2 linked regions of the Homo sapiens genome follow. The protein of the gene in region 1 purifies or fractionates together with the protein of each later gene. This does not show direct contact. Each region holds a gene or a part of one and is shown on either strand. Other genes may lie near its edges.

The links. Proteins that work in one complex are often made in the same cells at the same time.
Region 2: the proteins of FAM171A1 (region 1) and P4HA3 purify together in Homo sapiens (co-immunoprecipitation; one large-scale study listed by IntAct). This does not show direct contact.

Annotation. Positions count from the first base shown.
Region 1 is NC_000010.11:15,217,787-15,221,310, reverse strand, and holds part of FAM171A1 (protein FAM171A1 precursor), read left to right. Parts: intron 1-250; coding exon 251-367; intron 368-3,524. UniProt on the Homo sapiens protein: Involved in the regulation of the cytoskeletal dynamics, plays a role in actin stress fiber formation.
Region 2 is NC_000011.10:74,270,129-74,273,652, forward strand, and holds part of P4HA3 (prolyl 4-hydroxylase subunit alpha-3 isoform 1 precursor), read right to left. Parts: intron 3,480-3,524; coding exon 3,417-3,479; intron 1-3,416. UniProt on the Homo sapiens protein: Catalyzes the post-translational formation of 4-hydroxyproline in -Xaa-Pro-Gly- sequences in collagens and other proteins.

The DNA.
Region 1 (3,524 bases):
AGTGGCTGAAAGTAATTTAATTGAGAAGGCAAAGGAACACTAAAGTTGCTTATCTTTCCCTGAAAGGAAATTGAAAAGAATTTCTCCAGAAAGCTGCCTGGGGTCCCTAGATGACACTTTGGCCATCTTGGTTATCTTATAGGTCATAAACATGACATTTAAGATATTTAAGATGACTTTTACAATATGCTCAAGCCTTACAAAGGAGCGTGGTGTGCTTGTAGCTAACATCTCTTTCTCAATTCCACAGGAACGTGGCTGAAGAGCGGTCTGGGTCTTGTGCACCAGGAAGGCAGCCAGCTGACGTGGACATACATTGCCCCCCAGTTGGGGTACTGGGTGGCCGCCATGTCCCCTCCCATCCCAGGTAACACGGAGCCAACACTTGCGATGATGCGGATCAGTTGCTTTGGTCTTTGAGGGTTCAGGCTAAGTATGCTCTTGAAAATAACTTCAGCAGGGCGATCACATCTTATTCAAAAATGGTTAAAAGTCTGAAAATGAGATGATGTAAAGAAGGTATTTTGCGGGGGTGGGGGACTTCTGGTTGGAAATCTTCCATCTAGGGTAAGAATAATGCATAGAAAATAGTCTTGAGTGGCTGTTTTGTTCAGACAGCTGCCATAGGGAATTCTTCATCAAAAGCCCACAGAGACCAGCAAGACCTCCTCCCTAATTCCTGAAACAGCTGTGGCCTGGTATAGGCACACATGTAGGGAAAAGCACTCCACAGAGATGCTAGTGGGAAGTCACCACTGGGGGCAAAAAGCCTGGTGGGGCATTTCCAAAATGGCTTAAACGTAAACCAGTTGCTTTGTATCTACGAGAATCTTCCCCTCCATTTAGGATATGTGCATTAATGCATATCTTTCAGAACGTGACCAATAGTTTATTTTTTTTAACCTATGTTACCCCCAAAAATATTCTAGAATTGTTGAGTTTTGTTTTGTTTTGTTTTGTTTTCAAAATGGTCATCTCAGGAGAATTATTTCCAGTGATAGCTTCTGTTGCTCAAGCTGCCTTTAGAATCTATATTACTTGGACTGCCTTCTGCCTTCATTAGTAAATCTCTTTCTTGGTGGCAAATCTTTATGCTCAAATGGCAAATCTTTATGATTTTTCTTTTTAAAGACATCTAAAAGTCATGCACATTCAAGACTGGTGAATAAAGTAGGTGACTTAGCTAGGTCGAAATGTGCTGTGATTAAAAGGTGTCTCTTGTAAATGAACCATGAAGGCAGTTCTAAAATGCAAGTTCAAATATTTTAGCAATGGAATTATCACTGGAATTAGCACTTAGACTCACAAAGTAACTGATTTGATGGAGGTCTTTCCTAAACAGGTGTGGAAAAATGTGTTACAATGACTTTATATCACCATACTAAGAAAATTTACACTTCACATCTGTTTTAAGAGTAATGTGTTTCCCTTAGCCGGGCGCGGTGGCTCACGCCTGTAATCCCAGCACTTTGGGAAGCCGAGGAGGGCGGATCACGAGGTCAGGAGATCAAGACCATCCTGGCTAACATGGTGAAACCCCGTCTCTACTCAAAATACAAAAATTAGCTGGGCGTGGTGGCACACGCCTGTAGTCCCAGCTACTTGGGAGGCTGAGGCAGGAGAATCGCTTGAACCCAGGAGGCAGAGGTTGCAGTGAGCCGAGATTGTGCCACTGCACTCCAGCCTGGGCGACAGAGCGAGACACCCTCTCAAAAAAAGAAAAAAAAGATTAATGTGTTTCCCTTGATGCTATTGTTTTTGTAGTGATATAAGCATGAACCACACGTAGAAATGCCCCATTCTCTGAATCTGAAATACCTAGATTATGACTGAAGAGAAACAAAGGAAGGAAAAGAATTGTCTTAAGCACTAAAATAAATGCCATAAAGCCCACGCATTAAAATGAACTTTAATTTTAGATGTATTTCAATCTCAGCTATTAGTTTTCCCATCATGCAGTAGATCAGTACATGCTTTTTGTGTGTGTGTGTTTTGGTTTTGTTGTTGTTGTTGTTCGTTTGTTTTTTTGAGACAGAGTTTTGTTCTTGTTGCCCAGGCTGGAGTACCATGGCATGATCTCAGCTCATGGCCACCTCCGCCTCCTGGGTTCAAGCAATTATCCTGCCTCAGACTCCAGAGTAGCTGAGATTACAGGTCTCCGCCGCCACACCTGGCTAATTTTTGTATTTTAGTGGAGACAGGGTTTCACCATGTTAGTCAGGCTGGTCTTGAACTTCTGACCTCCGGTGATCCCCCCGCCTCAGCCTCCCAAAGTGCTGAAATTACAGGCATGAGCCACTGCGCCTGTCCAGTATATGCTTTTGTAAGGCAGCATGAAGGAACTGCCAGACGTAGCTCCCCTGAGAGCTTCCTAGCAGTGAAGGAAGAGACTCAAGGCTATAAAAAGCATACACAGGCCAGGGCATGGTAGCTCACACCTGTAATCCCAGCACTTTGGGAGGCAAGGCAGGATGATCTCTTGAGCCCAGGAGTTCAAGACCAGCCTGGGCAACACAGCAAGACCCCACTTCTAAAAAAATTTTTTTTAATTAGCCAGTGATGGTAGCATTCACCTGTAATCCCGGTTACTTGAGAGGTTGAGGCAGGAGGATCCCGTGAGCTCAGGAGTTCAAGGCTGCAGTGAGCTATGATCATGTCACTGCACTCCAGCGTAGGTGACAGAGTGAGACCCCATCTCAAAAATAACACAAAGCATACCCACTACAGCCTCTGATGGTATTTAATGTAGGGATACATATGTCAGTCATCTCACAACCCACCTTTATTACAAAAAATTATACTAATATTGGGCTTTCATGAACTCAAAAGCAACAACAAAATAATTTGGGTTATGTTCCTTAACTCCTTGAAGTGAAGTATAGCTGTGAATTTTATAAAGAATCGTACTGGCAGAGATTAAAACAATAATGCTGGCCAGGCACGGTGGTTCATGCCTGTAATCCCAGGACTTTGGGAGGCCAAAGTGGGCGAATCATGAGGTCAGGAGATCAAGACCATCCTGGCTAACACGTTGAAACCCTGTCTCTACTAAAAATACAAAAAATTTGCCAGGCACAGTAGCACACACCTGTAGTCCCAGGTACTCAGGAGGCTGAGGCAGGAGAATTATCCGAACCTGGGAGGCAGAGGTTGCAGTGAGCCCAGATCGTGCCACTGCACTCCAGCCTGAATGATAGAGTGAGACTCCATCTCAAAACAAAACAAAACAAAACAATAATGCTTTGAGTACTTAAAGGACGAAGCATCAGTATTTGGAAATACTTTTATGTGTACCCTAAGTTTCTTGGTGACTCCTGACAAAGCTTTGCTACATCCGTGGGAATTGTCTATTGTCTTTGCATGAAAAAATTGTTTCTCTGGGCCGGGTGCGGTGGCTCATGCCTGTAATCCCAGCACTTTAGGAGGACGAGGCAGGTGGATGATGAGGTCAGGAGTTCAAGACCAGCCTGGCCAAGATGGTGAAACCCCATCTCTACTTAAAAAAATTAGCCAGGCATGGTGGC
Region 2 (3,524 bases), on another chromosome or scaffold:
TATCTGAGATAGCTTCTGATCTTCTCTACTTTATTTTATTCTATTCTAGTGTGGTTCTCTTAAATGCTCATCAGAACCACTAAATTAATCTCACAACCTATAATGGATCATGACTTGTGGCTTGAAAACCAGTTTAGACTATGATTCTTCTTGAAAGCTGGGCATCATAGGAACTACTTATTACACCTTTGGCATATTCTCCAGATCACTCTGCTCCTCTCCAGGGAACCCAAGCTAAGGAGTTTCATCACTGGTCTGTTCTAGGACTATGGATATGTTTTCTTAATGTGAAGCTTTTTTTCTGGTTGTCACAGAAATATATAATAATTGTAAACTGTTTTAAAACAGGAAAATATTTTTAAATAACAATAATTATCATTGTACCATCCAGAAAAAAGTTATAGTTTACATAGTGATAGTTGACATTTATTGGGCACTGACTATATGCTAAAAGTTACACTATGTCCTTGCAAATATATTATCTCATTTATTCCTCAGAACAATCCTAGGAGTTACAATCGTTATTATTTTTAACTCTTCACATTTTACAGATAAAGAAACCAAGTCTCAGAGAGCTTAAGCACTTTATAAAAGGTCACATGGCTCTTCCATGATGGAGTCAGGATTTGAGCTGAGCTGGTGCCATGTGACTACAAAGTCCCTGCTCATAACCATCATGCTACACATTTGGAAATTTAGGTCATATCCAAATGTTTACTATTATAAACAACACTGCACTGAACAACTTAATGAAAAAAAATCATTTTGCATTTTGGATTGTTTTCATAGGAAAGAGTCTTGGCACTAGTATTATGGGGTCAAAAGGACATGCATAAGTTTCATACTTCTTATACATTTTGCTAAATTATTTTTTCAGCAGTTGCATCACACAAGAGTGCCAGTTTTACCTCACGCTGCCTAGCATTATCTACCAGAAGGTTCATGCTCTGTAATCTTATGGCAGTCAGATCCCGGTACATTTACTTGTGTTACAGAGCAAGAGGTATAGGAGGTAGGACGCTGGCCCTTGGTAGATGCAAGTGAACTGACATGGTGATTTGGAACCTGGAAATGGCAGTGGTGACTATTAGCATTCCTTGGCTCTCCCTGTAGCACACTGGGAAAGCCGATGAGAACAACAATTGGCTCCTTGTGTTCAGGTAACAAATTAGATTATTCTATTCTAGCCCTTGTCAGTAAGGGGCAACCTGGACTTTCCTGCATTCTTTTACCTGTGGTTTTACAATATGGTGGAAAGGAATGACATAGCCAACACATTAAAAAGAAAATCGGATTCTGCATGCAATGAAGCTCATGAGCACGGCATGGGCTGTAAGAACAGTGGGAAAGGGAGAGAAATCTTCCGTCTGTATACCTTCTACTATTTTGTACTGGGGCTGATCTTTTTTTTTTAATAGAGACAGGGTCTCACTATGTTACCCAGGCTGGACTCGAACTGCTGGGCTCAAGCGATCTTCTTGCTTGAGCCTGCCAAGTAGCGGGGACTACAGGTGCACACCACCGCACCCAGATTGGGACTGATCTTATGTCCAATCTGAGCAGAAAATCACCAACTGGACTTCAACTCAATCCTCTGTACTTCTTAAAGATTATTTTCTCCCTATAAAATCAGTCTTAGGTTTCCCACAAACCTTAACATTTGTCTTGAGAAATGTTTGTCTTGAAATTGTCTCGAGAAATCCCAACCTGAAGATGAAAGACTTGGGCATAATCTAGCACTTCCCTGGTCCCATGATACTGATTCCCCTTTATGATACCCTTTCCTTTAATTGCTCTGTGGGATACAATGACAGAAACATACAGTATGGAACTTTCCAGAGTGACATCCCTCCTTACATTATCTCATCAGACCCTCACAACAACACTGTGAGGAAGCACAGGGCAAAAAGTGAGCTCACATAATAGATGTAATCTGTGCTGAGGCCACATAGTAAGTGGCAAAATCAGGATTAGGTCAACTGACTCCAAATCCAAAGTGTATTCCATTCCACTCTGTCTCAAATACTTAAAACCCAAATGCACATGCATGCACACACATGTGAAAGTGCATGAGAGTGCATGCACACACATACACACACACACACACACACACATGCATTTGCCATTTAAAATTACTGGGCTCTTATACCCACGCTACCTTCGCTATAGTAACTGGGGCCCTGTAACCAGGGAACCAGCCATAGGAGATATTGAGGGGATAAAGAACAGAGATATATTGTGCCCTAGATGCCCTGTTTTTTGGCAGCAGTTCATTCTTTCGCCGTTTGTGACCTCCCATAACAGCTGGAGTGGTCAACCAGAGATGCAACCAACTGCAGCTCCAAGATGTGTCCCCTGCCTGATAGCTGACCTCAGAATGATCAGAATGAGGCCAGACACCATTGTAAGTGGAAGCCTTCCAGTTCCATAGGAAGTACAGAACTGAGCCACATAGAGAAACACACTGGAATTGCTGGCATTAAAGACTACACAGAATGCTGGCCTCTGACTGCCCTTTCTTGGCTGTCCTGTGGAGACCAGAGACAGTCCTAATAGAAGAGGAAAAGCTGGGGTGAGGGATGTCTGCTATTCTAATGAGGCTGAAACAAGGACTTCATCTTTGGTTGTTATATAGAACCCTTATATATGTTTGTCCCTTCAGTTAACAGTAAGGTATCTCTTCTAATAAGTGATTAATTCTAATATTCTCTTCCAGTGACAGGTGATTGGAAGCTTGTCCATAGAGACGAAAGTAAACCCACATGATCTGAAGGGAAGGGGACAGGTGAGATGATACAGACTGGGGCCGAATCCTGATCAGGCCAGGAATTAGGAGAGAAGTACAATTTATTGGTTTATCTTGAAAGGGGAGTCATGGAGATTTTACTGAAGATTTTATAGAGAGATAAGGAAGAGAATTTTCACTAAACATCAGAGGCAGCACTTGCTGAATTTCTCTCAGTGTCTCTGTTCTTCCCTCTTGTAAATCTGCTGCCTCATTCCTCATCCATCTCCCTCCCCACAGCCCCACAACCTCATCTATGGGTTGTTTTTCAACACTGATTAGTCCATGAGACCTCAAGGACACAGATTCTCAGATCCTCCTCCTGTGTTGTTCAAGTCCCTCTATCTCTTGGCCTTCAGTGGAGCTCCACTTCCCATCCTAATCCACTGCCCATACCAAGGTCATATTTAGATTTACACACTGTCAGCCTCTTTCAGGGTAGAAACCTTGTCTTGTATTTCTTTACATCTCCTACAGTGCCTATCAAAAATGCTGTCTGAAATTCGCAAAATTCCTGGAGATTTTTGCGCTGAGTACCAGATAAAATCAATACGTGAAATTGCTTTGAAAACAATAAAATAAAGTAGAGCTATAGTCAGTCATGAAGTAAGAAGCCCAGAGCAATACTCACATAGATCATAAATGTTGCAACTCGGTTTCCTGACTTCATTCTGTAGAGGGGGCTGCTTGGTGACTGAGAAAAAAAAAAACAGAACATATTATTTTATGCAGATGGCAC